Linked DNA regions of Homo sapiens: regions 2 and 3 are each linked to region 1. Evidence: fine-mapped expression QTL. A gene starts in region 1. Each other region holds a variant in brackets. All regions are shown on one strand. Distances are between the middles of the regions.

Region 1 (4,227 bases):
ATTTTTACTTACTCTTCATCCTGAAAATTAAATTATGCAATTTTTAATTATATGAACTTTGAGACTTTCTTGTGTTCTGGAGGGAAAAAACGGTACCTCAACGAACTTCTAAAAAAAAAAATACGTATCTTCTTGGCTAATAAAGTGTTATCAAGATTAAGGCTTTTAAAAAAATTGTTTTTAGGAATCTATAGGATGGGGTGCGGGAGGGAATGGGGCCTATTGTATCTTTAGTTTAACTTGATTGGTTGCAGGATTTGGGAATTGGGGTTGGGGGAGTGGAAGGGTAAAAACAAAGTTGGAAGAGATTCTGGGGGTAGACCATAGCATATGACTGCATTTGTAGTTTAAAGGAGCAAAGGGCTACCAGTCTTACTCATAACTTGATTTTTAAAAAGTGTTCAGTGCCTACAATTTGCTATGCTTTTTTTCTAATCTCTCAGAAACTTGAAAAAAAGCTATCGAGATTACCTTTTACAGTGTGTGCATATAACTTTAAAACGACTATTTTAACGTCTTTTATTTAAATTTTATTTTAACTTAGTGCATAAACATTACAGCCAGTTTAACTTGTCCGTGGAAAGGCAGTAGAATTTTACCCCGGGACCGTCTTGCATACTGCTTTTTTTGAGTTTTAACATCCGCAAAATCTTGGCATATTAATTTAGTTGGGTTGTAGAATTCTGAGTTTAGGAACAAAAAAAATTTAGGTGGAGATGGTTGACCTATGCTCCCTACTCTGTAGCTTTTGTTTTTTTAAAAACTAAGTTTTAAATCCCGTTTTCTGTCCTGTCTTCTTTAAAAGCAAAACAAAACATTTTAAGTTTCTTAACTTTTTCCTGGGACAAGGAACGGTGCAAACTCAAAGCTACAGTATTCTTGGAAAGAAGAAGCAACCCCCTCCCTTGGCTCCTTTAGGAGCTGATAGGTCATTTATTATTGGAACTGAAATGGTATAAACAATTCTCTCTCTTTTTTTCCCTTGTTAACAGCAACTTTCATTGTTAGAGAGAGGAGAGAGAGAGAAGCCTTGTTGGTTGACGTCACTTGGTTCATGAAGCCTTCGCCTAGAAGTGAAGCTGCTGAACAAACCTTGAGAAGAATCATCTCCTGCTTCAATCTGCTGCTGGATAGGAACTAATCAGAGAGAGAGAGGCGGAAGACGGAGAAGGAGGGAGTCGAAGGCTTTCCCGATCACAAATCTCACCTCCACTACAACTCTCTTTATACTTTTCTTGCAGAAATAATAATAGAAATAAGGAGGTGGTGGGGTTTCCAAAAATCTTAACCTTCAACCATCTGGGGAAAAGGCAAAAATCCCATCTACCGCAACTCTCAGTTCGAGAGTAAAGGTGAGTTTAAAATCCTCGGGCGTGAGGGGTGCGGGTGAGGATGTAAATTCCCAGTGTTACAAAGCCGGTGGAAACAGCAGCGGAGAAACTGCGCTCGGGCAAGCGGGGGACTCCGGAGTTGCTGCGTGGAGGCGCTCGCCCCGCCGCCCTCTCGCCCTCCGCCGCTGTTTATCCTCGCCGGTCGGTGCGGCTCTTTGTTGTGGTGGCCGGAAGGCTGGGGTGGTTCTCGGGGTCCCGAGTGGAGTTTGGGGGAGGAGGACACGGAGATGTGCCGTCCTGGGTGGGAGGTGGGGGGTGCGGCCTCAGGAGAACGTAAACTTTATTCCTAGAAGCCGGTGCGGGACTTCGCTGGAGTAGGGCCGTGGGTTGTGCTCCCGGCCGGGCAGGCGCTGCCGCCGCGAGTCCGCCGCCTTTGTGCCGGCCGCCCTGGCTTCGCGTCTCCTTCCTCTTCCCCTTCGGCTTCCAGCGCTCAGGTCGCCGCCAACAGTTTTGCTTCTTAAAAAACAACCTCTGTCAGCGTTGCGATGGCCGTTCCTACCCCGGAATATCCGCTGCTCCCCCACTCCCTGCCGGGGTAGTTTCTGGATCACCCCCCACCCCCGTCCGCCTCCTGCTGCCCTTTTTTGCCTCCGCCCCCTCTTCCCTGTCGGACTGACGAGCTGCGTCTGCCACCCCCACTCCCCGGCTTGGGCCTCTAGCTCTCCCGTGTGTAGCTGGAGGCTCTGAGTTTACTGAAGATGAGCGGGGGTGGGGGTGGGGCAGGTGGGATTGGGAAAAGATCTGGATACCTGGGAAGGTCTATGTCAGCACGCAGAAGGTTTGAGGAGCATTGCTTCTCATACAGTAAGGTCTGTGCCTTGGTCTCATGTTTTAGCAGTTCTTCCCCGGGAACGACCGCCAGCTCCCAACTCCTCTGCTTCCCTCTTTTAATCTTCTTGTCGCTACCCCTCCCCCCAGCCCCCGTTCTCTTTCGCGGCTCCCTCCCCTTTAAGTAGTTTCACGAACCCCAGAATTGGGATTTGAGAAGGGGAAGGAAGTGTTTGAAGAGTCAGAGCTGGCTCTGTTGTTTGGGAGATTTTCTCTTCTTTTCTTTCTCCCTCTGTATTTATCTTTTGTCTGTTGCTTCCTTATAAAGAGGGAAGCAGCTGCAGTCCTTGGCCGAGTTGTTGAAATTTATCCCTTTGTGTATATTACAATATCCTCCATTTTTTTTCCTGCCCTCTAAACAACAAGCGTTTCGCCATCTTGGGCAATTTTATTCCCAAGTCTCTCTCTTTTTTATTTTTGAGGAAAGGAAAGAAGTATTAGGAAGTGTGTCTGGATAAGTCTCAAAGTTTAGGGAATGTTCAGGGGGCCCAGTGACGTCATGTAAACTTTACGGAGAAATTTTCCCAAGAGTAAATTTTTTGCTTAATTTTTCTCCTGTTTTATAGGATTGTGTAACTTACAGGTTACTGATAAGTTGTGTGGCTTATTTTTGTGTTTTGCTCTCAAAATCAGTATACGAAGTCTGCGTATTGTATGTTTTGGTAACAGGTGGAAGATTATATGCAAAAAATGGTAAAAAACTTGTGCGTCATTTGTTATTTATCTGGTTTTTGTGTACTTTTTTTTTTAATTTAAAGGTTTCAACTGTTATCTGTAGTCAGTATATTCCCTTTCTTATTTGCTCCACTCTCCCTTATGGATTTTTTGAAAATTAGCTTGGTTAATATTTATGTATGGTTATTTTAGATTATCTGGCTCCCCGTTTCTAATAAAATGTTCTGGGGTTTTCTTTTTCTATTATTTATTTACATTTTGAAAAGAAATGACTATGGAAAATACCTTAAGATAATGGATACTTTAAAATTTAGTAGCAGATATTAAGTCAAACAATTATTGAGTATTTAAGAGGCAGAATTGATTTTAAAAGTTATTTTATAATCGCTAGCTATAAACTCTTTGTCAGCCATTATGAACAGATAAACAAAAACTAGCACTGTTTTAATTTGCTTGTCTAACATAGTTTTTCGCCTCACAAAAGTTGGTTTGGTCACATGACCAAGCTTAATGATACACTGACTAGTATATAAATAAGAGGCACTGTATATTGAATGGGAAAGTGGAATTCTGTCTCCTGTAGTCATTTTCAGTCAGCATATTTACATCTCTTCTAACAAGGACATGAAACTGTCTGTATTTAATTTGCATTCTCTTTGTCTTCTGGGTTGAGGGAAAAACACTGACTACAATTAACTTAAAAAAAGCTAATAGAAACAATTCTGAATACATTGAAAAGGTTTGTGTAACACACAGAAATTTATGTTCTATATGGTAAGTTTTTATTTCTGTAGCAGTCTTCTTTGGTGTTATCTATTTATCCAGGAATTTGCTTCATGTAATATGCTATATAGAAAGCTTGACTGAGTTGAGTGTCTGCCATTTATGTGAATTGTAGGTAGGTGAAAAATGTTTAAATAGTTAAAAGCACATAGAACAGATGGTTCTAAATTATACATGCAACAAAGGACTAGAAGATTTGGCAGATTATAAATGGCAAGCAACAGAGGATAAGCAGTTTAAGAAAATGGTAGTTAAGTACATTTGATGTCTCACACCTATTGTAAACACTGTACATATTATTGTCACTCTGCTGCATAATCAGTAATTTGGACAACATTAAGACACTCGTATGGTTCAGATAGAAAAAAGTAATTTTTACAAGTATTTGAAACAAGTGGTTGAATTTAAAATTATTTTAAGCCTACGATGATGAAGAGTCTTTTTTTTTTTTTTTTTTAGAAAATCAGATTGTATGCTTTAAAAATACAAAGTTATTTATGAGAACTTAATATTGTGTTCTTATAATGGTTGGAGAGAAACAGGAATGGGT
Region 2 (4,227 bases), 21 kb after region 1:
GGGTGCACCAAAATCTCACAGATCACCACTCTTGTAACCAAACCTCACCTGTTCCCCAATGCCCTATGGAAATAAAAAATTAAAAGATAGAAAAAAATAAATAAATGGAGAAAAAACAAAAATAAAATGTTTGGTAGCTTCTTTTCTATGTTAGCTGCTATAAATCAAGACAAATTTACTTTCTAGGTTAGGTCCTTCATTGTCTTTTATATTCTTGAACAAACTTTAGGGCCGTGCTTCTAACAGGATCTGTGGTGTCACGCATATTTTTATAAAAATACTAAAATTTGCTAAAATGCAATATATTAATCATTGTTGTCTTCAAATGAAACAGTAAATAAGCGCTTAAAATAGTTCTGAGTCTTAATTTCCAATATGGTAAACATCAAGACTTACAACCTATGTACAATGAAAACTCTTTTGGAGTCTTCAACAAGTCCTAAGAGTGTAAAGAGGCCAGGAGACCAAAATGCACAAGAATCCGTTCTTTAGGACAATACTACTCCTTTTCCTTTAAAATAAATGCACATACCGAGCTGTGATTCCATGTCATTGTTGCTCCTGGTATAGTCTGTTAAAAGAAAGACTTCAGCCAAATTTATTTAAAGTGTTTAATTGAGCAAAGAAAATTCACGAATCAAGCAGCCTCCCAAGCCAGAGTAAGCTCAGAGACTCCAGCGTAGCCAAGTGGTGGAAGAAGATTTATGGACAGAAAAAGGAAGTGACATACAGAAAACATAAGTGAGGTACAGAAATAGCTGGATTGGTTACAGCTTGGTATTTGCCTTAGTTAAACACAGTTGGAACAGTTGGCCACATTTGATATGCCAAAACTGGGTGATTGGCACAAGAGTGGGCTATGGACTGATAGTACCTCCGCTTGTTAGATATAGTTCAGAATGTACAGAGAAGCCTCTAGGTTGAATTTAAAATATGTAAAGAGGCAGCTTTAGGCTAAACTTACATAACAGATTTCAATGAATCATATTAATTGTAACTTTTAGTCGAAGTGACTAATTTCTGTTTTACAGAGAAAAGTTGGAGGTGAATAATTGAGAACTGTGTCATATACCAGCATTTTAGCAGACTAGTAGAATTCATGAGCACACACAACACCACTTTTTACAGCACGCATACCTCTTTTTCGCCTCTTAAAGTGGCAAAAATTGACATTTCCACTAACATGACCTAAAACAGCTTGTCATTAGTATATAAAAACAAGAAACAAAAGTGTATGTTTAGCCTGTAATCCCAGCACTTTGGGAGGCCGAGGTGGGCAGATCACCTGAGATCAGGAGTTTGAGACCAGCCTGACCAACATGGAGAAACCCCATCTCTACTAAAAATACAAAATTAGCCAGGTGTGGTGGTGCATGCCTGTGATCCCAGCTACTCAGGAGGATGAGGCAGGAGAATCGCTTGAACCCAGGAGGCGGAGGTTGCGGTGAGCCGAGGTCATGCCATTGCACTCCAGCCTGGGCAACAAGAGCAAAACTCCGTTTAAAAAAAAAAAAGTATATGTTTAAAAGGATGCATAGTAATCAATGTTTCAGTATTTTGCTTAGAAGTTATTACGCATTGAATAATTATTTAATATCAGTCCAAGGTTTTAGGCTACCTAAAGATTTGAAAATTATCTTCAAGCTGCCATGCTGCAAAATATACTTACTGTTGAAATAAAAATTTGTTGGGCCATGCCCGGTGGCTTGGGCCTGTAATCCCAGCACTTTGGGAGGCTAAGGCAGGCAAACAGCTTGAGCTTAGGAGTTTGAGACCAGCCTGGGCAACATGGTGAAGCCCTGTCTCTACAAAAACTACAAAAAATTCACTGGGTATGTTGGCACGCGCCTGTAGTCCCAGCCGCTTGGGAGACTGAGCTGGGAGGATCCCTGGAGCCTGTGAGGCGGAGGCTGCAGCAAGCCATAATCACGCCACTGCACTCCATCCTGGGCAACAAAACAAGATTACATGTCAAGAAAAAAAAAAAAACTGTCAAAATAATGACTCAATTTACTTGAACAT[G/A]AGAATTTATCTGTTTCATGTTGTAAACTTTAAGGATTAATGCTAGCTTGTCCGATTGGTTAAAGCCATAAATTTTTAAAATTAGAATGTATTAAATTAGTCCCATTTGCCAAAGATTTACCTTTCTTTTGTAAACTTGGGTTCTTAAGATTAAAAACTAAAATACTTAGTTTTTCTAATTACTTTTTTTTTTTGAGACGGAGTCTCGCTCTGTTGCCCAGGCTGGAGCGCGGTGGCGCGATCTCAGCTCACTGCAAGCTCCGCCTCCCGGGTTCATGCCATTCTCCTGCCTTAGCCTCCGGAGTAGCTGGGACTACAGGCTCCCGCTACCACGCCTGGCTGATTTTTTTGTATTTTTAGTAGAGACGGGGTTTCACCGTGTTAGCCAGTATGGTCTCGATCCCCTGACCACAAGGTAGGCCGCCCGCCTCGGCCTCCCAAAGTGCTGGGATTACAGGAGTGAGCCACCGCGCCCGGCCGACTTTTTGTTTTTTAATGCACATGCAGAATATTAGAAGTTCAGTGTTTTTATTGTCTGAGAATTTAGTTCAAAGAGAATTGAAAGGCCTGGAAATGGATAGTGGTGGAGGTTGCACAGTATTGTGAATGAACTTAATGCCAGCTAATTGTACACTTAAAAATGGTTAAAGTATGTGCTCGATCTCTAATTTCTAAAACAAAGCAGGGACAGGCCTGGTTAGTACTTGGATAGGAGAATGTAGGCTTTTTAAAAAACTGGCAAAAATGGCAAATTTTATATTACAGTAGTCCCTGCCTTGTCCCCGAGGAGATACGTTCCAAGACACTCAGTGGATGCTGCCTAACCCCCAGTGGATGACTATGTTTTGTCAATCTAATAACTAGACAACTATTAGGTGACTAACAGGCAGGTAGCGTTTATAGAGTAGATATGCTGGACAAAGGGATGATTTGTGTCCCAGGCAGGTTTGAGGGGGAAGGCATGAAATTTCATCATGCCACTCAAAATGGCACACAATTTAAAACTTGTGAATTGTTGATTCCTAAAATTTTCATTTTAATATTTTTGGACGTTGGCCAACTGCTCGTAACTGAAGCCTCACAGTGAAAATGTGGATAAGTGGGGACTACTGGTATGTGTATTTTACCACAAAAAACAACCCCCAAAACAAAAAGGATAGTGAAAGGGACAGATAACTTGGTATGATGCCCTAGATAGGACATAATCTTTTTTTTCCCTTTGTTAAAGTCTTCCATAATTTTTCCTCGCAGGAACATTATCCTAAGAGGGGTAAGATTTCAACTGATGGAATACATAGAAGTACATTCCAGATTCTACAAAGATAAAATACAGAGATTTGGTCAAAGTTTGCATGATCACTGAGGAAAATAATGATAGATTTAAAGGTGGAAATATAGATTTTGGACATACTCTTTGTTCTCTGATGGTACAGATTAGCATATCATATGTTTTATTAAGTGAACATGTATTTTCTTTTTATTACTTTAGTTTTCATATGGAGTTGGGGGCTTAAATTTTTGTTTCCCTTAGCAGTAGAGTAAGCCCATTTGGCATGAGTTTTGGCCAAACTGCATCACAAATCTTAAGGCTTTGCTTCATCATTTATTTGCTAAGTATCTTCTCCAGGCAAGGAACTCAGTGTTGGGGTGAGAGGGAATAAAGAGATGAATAAGATACTTTATCAATTTATCTAATTCTGTTTAGTAAATATTTCAAAACTTAACAGGGTAAAACATATTTGTTATTGGAGTTTCTGTAGTTCAGGAATCTCGTAGTGGCTTAGTTAGGTGGTTTTGGCTTAAGATCTCTCAAGAGGTGGCTGTCACGCTGTCAGTTGGGGCAGCAGTCATTGCAAGGCTCAACTGGGGCTAGAAGATCTGCTTCCAAGCTCATATAGTTCTTGGCACGCCTTTTTTCCTTGTCCCTGTTCTGTTGGTGGGAGGACTTAGTTCTTGATCACATGGTCATTTCCATGGTGCTGTGTCTGACATGGCAGCTTGCTTCCACCAAAGTGAGTGGGTGAGAGTTGAGAGAGAGACAGAGTCTCTTTTTAGAATGAGAATGTTGTGAAAGAGGAAAGAAGATAATTTGAACATAGAGCAACTTGAAAAAGAACAAGCAGTTTAAAAGATCTGTTAAAGTCATGATATTGGGCCACGTGCAGTGGCTCACGCCTGTAATCCCAGCACTGGGAAGCTGAGGCA
Region 3 (4,227 bases), 59 kb after region 1:
AAAACTGTTCAACATGTTTTCCTCTTTGGAAATCTTTCTTCATGTGCCTTTATTCATTGTATTTTCTATGTCTCTACTTCTTGAACTTAAACAAAACAAAAAACCCTGCAATTCCACTTCTCTTATTTCCCATGGGCCCTACTTATAGGTCTCTGCCAAATTATGCTGGCTGTTCTGTTTTTTTCTTCATATTCCCTTGGTGAACTTGCCCACAGTCTTGGCTTGAACTGTACTTTTATATAACTGATTTTCAAATCTTGAACTCTTCTAAATTTCTACCTGCTGGAGCCGGGCACAGTGGCTCACGCCTGTAATCTCAGCACTTTGGGAGGCCGAGGTAGGCGGATCACCTGAGGTCAGGAGTTCAAGACCAGCCTGACCAACAGGGAGAAACCCCGTCTCTACTAAAAATACAAAAAAAATTAGCCAGGCATGGTGGCGCATGCCTGTAATCCCAGCTACTCGGAAGGCTGAGGCGGGAGAATTGCTTGAACCTGGGAGGTGGAGGTTGCGGTGAGCTGAGATCGCGCCATTGCACTCCAGCCTGGGCAACAAGAGCAAAATTCCATCTCAAAAAATAAATAAATAAATAAATAAATTTCTACCTGCTGGTGGGAAGCGTCTTCATTTGAATGGCCTATGGTGACACTGGCCTGTCCTATTGTTCTAAATAAAAGTCACCCCACCCTGCCACTTCAGATTTCTTTCATTATGTGAGTGAGAATCTTTGAAGTAATCTTTCACTTTTTTGCTATCCTTGTTCCTAATACTTAGTTTAGCATGAAGCCTTCTGGTTTCACCATTTAAGATTTGGGTTTCCCATTCCCTCTGCATTTCCTCTTCTTCACTATCCAGACCCTCATTATCATACACCTTTAATTCACTACCCGCGCTTTCCCATCACCCCCTGCCTTGCTTTTTTTTTTAAGCTTCCCAAATGCTTCTTGCAGTGACTTAAAAACGTATACCAAGTTGTTATGGCATATTTTCTTTAAATAGATAGTAATTCTTGAAGAGTTTTTATTTAAACTTTCTTTTGGATCCTTTGTAGCTCTTGACATAATGCTGGATGCAGTAGGAACTTGATAAATACTTGTTCACTCATTCATTCAGTAGCTAATTAGCTATTGGGTTCCAGGTACTAAACTTGTGCTCCAGTGATCTTCCTTCATGGAGTTAAAGCTAACAGCAGCCTCTGGTGGTAAAGGAAGGCCTCTCTAAGGAGGTGGCGTTTGTTATGAGACCCGATTGAAGTGAGAAAACCAGTCCTATGAAGATATGGAGAACAATTGCTCCAGGCAGAGGGAAGAGCAAGTGTCAAGGCCCTGAAGTGGAACAAATTTGATATGTTTGGGGATTATCAAAAGGGTGATTGTGACTGGAACATGGTAGAAGCAGGAAATGCAGTCAGGGCACCAGGTAACAGAGGGCCTAAGAGGTCATGATAATAAGTATTGTGGGTTTTATTCTAAGAGCTGCTAAAGCCATTGTACAATTTTGAGTAAGGGAATGATGTGATCTGATTAACTTGCTTTAAGAACAGAGGTAGGTACTTGAGACCGGGAGTTTGAGACCAGCCTGGGCAACATGGTGAGACCCCGTATCTCAAAAAAAAAAAAAAAAAATTAATTAGCCAGGTGTAGTGACACACACCTGTAGTCCCCAGCTACTCAGGAGGCTGAGGCAGGGAAAAAAAAAAAAAAAGAATAGAAGTAGGGAGGCTATAATGGTAACATAGGAGAGCCAGTAATCATGAAGTAGTAAGGTAAAATTAAGGATAGAGTGACGAAGAGTAGTTGGTAGGACAGACTAGGTGAAAGGTCTGAGGTAAAAGAGAAACCAGGAAAAATTCAGTTCTTTGTGCTTAGACAAGTCATGTATCATTTCTAAATTCTGTTTTCCTGGAGTCTATAATAAGGAATATCTCTTTCCTGCCCCTTTGAAGGATTCGTTATGAGGACCTGATAAAATAATACATGAAAGTCCATTATGAACCTTAAAATGCCATAACCATGTGTTACTTTTTGATACTAAACATTTAAGGGCTCATCTCAAATTAGACCTTGTTAATAAAGAAATTTCCAGGCTAGGTCCGGTGGCTCATGCCTGTAATCCCAGCACTTTGGGAGGTCAAAGTAGGTGGATCACTTGAGGCCAGGAGTTTGAGAACAGGCTGGCCAACATAGCGAAACACTGTCTCTACAAAAAATACAAAAAGTTAGCTGGGTGTGGTGGTGCACACTTGTAGTCCCATCTGCACAGGAGGCTGAGGCACAAAAAT[C/T]GCTTGAACCCAAGAGGCAGAGGTTGCAGTGAGCCACGATCGCGCCACTGCACTCCAGCCTGGGTGAGATTGAGACTCTGTCTCGAAAAAACAACAAAAAATTCCAAAAATTAAGATTTCACAGGGATAAACTTGAAGCCATTTACAGTTTAGGAAATAGTTTTTTCCTGTTCTAAATTCTTCCCAGTGATATTTTCAATCTTTTGATAATTTTGTCGCTATTCATAAATATTAGCATGTGGTAATGTCTCCAGTATTAAGTAGATGACATTTTGGTTCTAATCTGTACTGATAATCATAGACAGAAAAGTATTTATAAATAATACCTAATTGTCTTCAGTTTGTGACGTATTTAAGACATTGTTTTTCTCTTCTGAGTACGTAATTTGAAGACAAATAAAACTTGTAACCCAAATGTCCTACAGCTTGTTTTTTAATATGTTATGTTCACCCTAGGGTGTTGGTGATTATAAACAAAAACATGATCTGCCATACTATAATAAATAATGATCTATAAATAAACTCCAGTCCTTTTATGCTTATTTTTGTCATACTGATTATATGGACCCTGATACCGTAGGTTAATTTCAATATGACTTACAGCATGAAGAAAGACACAAATTTTAAACAAACTTTTTAGTTTCTGAAATTTCTTAAGTATGCTTCAGCTGATTGCTAATTCTTGTTTTCCTATTGCAGGTTTCCCAACAGTGATGTCACAAGATTGACCACATTGATCACAGTAAGACCAAAATGATAGTTAAGCTTTTAAGGAAGTTTGGTTTTCTCTGAGAATGAGAATTGACTTAGAAAACATATATAATTTGAAATTATTATTTCTTTTGCTAGCCAGTTGAATGTTAACATTTTAAATGAATCATATCTTATACTTCTAGCTAGTTATTTAAATACTTTTAAAATATTACTTTAAAGGATTTAAAAAACATTTAAAATGAAAATTACTTTTAATTTACAACTGAAATTACAGGCCTAAATATACTAAATTATTTCAGTGTGACTTAAATTCTGAACGTCATCTTTTTTGAGTTTTTATTTTTACCAGAAAATGACAGAAAGGTTAAGGTGATTCCACATTAGGAAATATATATAAAAGTAAATTACTTGAGATTGTAATGAATTATTAAGGAAAGATTATGAAAATGTAGCCTTGGTAGGCTGGGCGCGGTGGCTCACGCCTGTAATCCCAGCACTTTGGGAGGCCGAGGTGGGTGGATCAGCTGAGGTCAGGAGTTCGAGACTAGCCTGGCCAACATGGTAAAACCCCGACTCTACTAAAAATACAAAAATAGCTGGGCATGGTGGCACACACCTGTAATCCCAGCTACTCGGGAGGCTGAAGCAGGAGAATCACTTGAACCCGGGAGGTGGAGGTTGCAGTGAGCTGAGATTGTGCCACTGCCCTCCAACCTGGGCAATAGAGAGACTCCATCTCTAAAAAAAAAAAAAAAAAAAATACACACACACACACACACACCCCCCACATACACCACATACCACATATATATAGCCTTGGTAGAGTTTTTAGGCATCTTGCTTAAATTTTTTATTGATATTTATAGGATTTATAGAGTCTTCCAGATATGGAGAGTTTTTTGATAAAAGGATGGTTCTCTTAAGTAACTGATACTTTTTAATTTTATTTTAAGTGTTAATTTCTGTTGTGTGTAAGGACATATATTACCTAAAGAAAAACTTTTCCAGGGCCTTTATCCACATTAGAAAATTCTAAGTGATAAAATCTGAATTACAATCATGAACTTTATATCATTTTTGAAAAATTCTCTTAAATAACAGATAAATAAATTTCTACCAAATTATTTACTCCATGATCCTGCTTCTTCAACTGTTTTAATTTAACTCATTAAATCCAGAAGCATTAATTATTAGAAGTATAAATTCACATATCAATAATGTTTTTATTTATG

Evidence for each region. PIP is the estimated chance that this variant, and not a neighbour inherited with it, causes the effect. A credible set is the group of variants that fine-mapping cannot tell apart.
Region 2: its variant is the best candidate, but not a certain one, in a credible set for the expression of BAZ2B-AS1 in whole blood (TOPMed, PIP 0.76).
Region 3: its variant is the best candidate, but not a certain one, in a credible set for the expression of BAZ2B-AS1 in whole blood (INTERVAL, PIP 0.51).

What each region holds. Positions count from the first base shown.
Region 1 is chr2:159,613,367-159,617,593 of GRCh38, reverse strand. BAZ2B-AS1 (BAZ2B antisense RNA 1) reads right to left here and starts at 2,300. Exons shown (of 2, transcript NR_110588.1): 1 at 2,141-2,300; 2 at 1-1,844. BAZ2B (bromodomain adjacent to zinc finger domain 2B) reads left to right here and starts at 1,046. Exons shown (of 37, transcript NM_013450.4): 1 at 1,046-1,352. RefSeq lists enhancers at 957-1,026, 1,277-1,356, 984-1,510, 2,567-3,095.
Region 2 is chr2:159,592,396-159,596,622 of GRCh38, reverse strand. The region is part of intron 1 of BAZ2B (bromodomain adjacent to zinc finger domain 2B); the gene reads left to right. Among named protein-coding and RNA genes, the nearest start is that of BAZ2B-AS1, 21 kb to the left of the region's middle. The variant G/A (reference allele first, on the strand shown) is at 2,023.
Region 3 is chr2:159,554,619-159,558,845 of GRCh38, reverse strand. BAZ2B (bromodomain adjacent to zinc finger domain 2B) reads left to right here. Exons shown (of 37, transcript NM_013450.4): 2 at 2,981-3,023. Among named protein-coding and RNA genes, the nearest start is that of BAZ2B-AS1, 59 kb to the left of the region's middle. The variant C/T (reference allele first, on the strand shown) is at 2,282.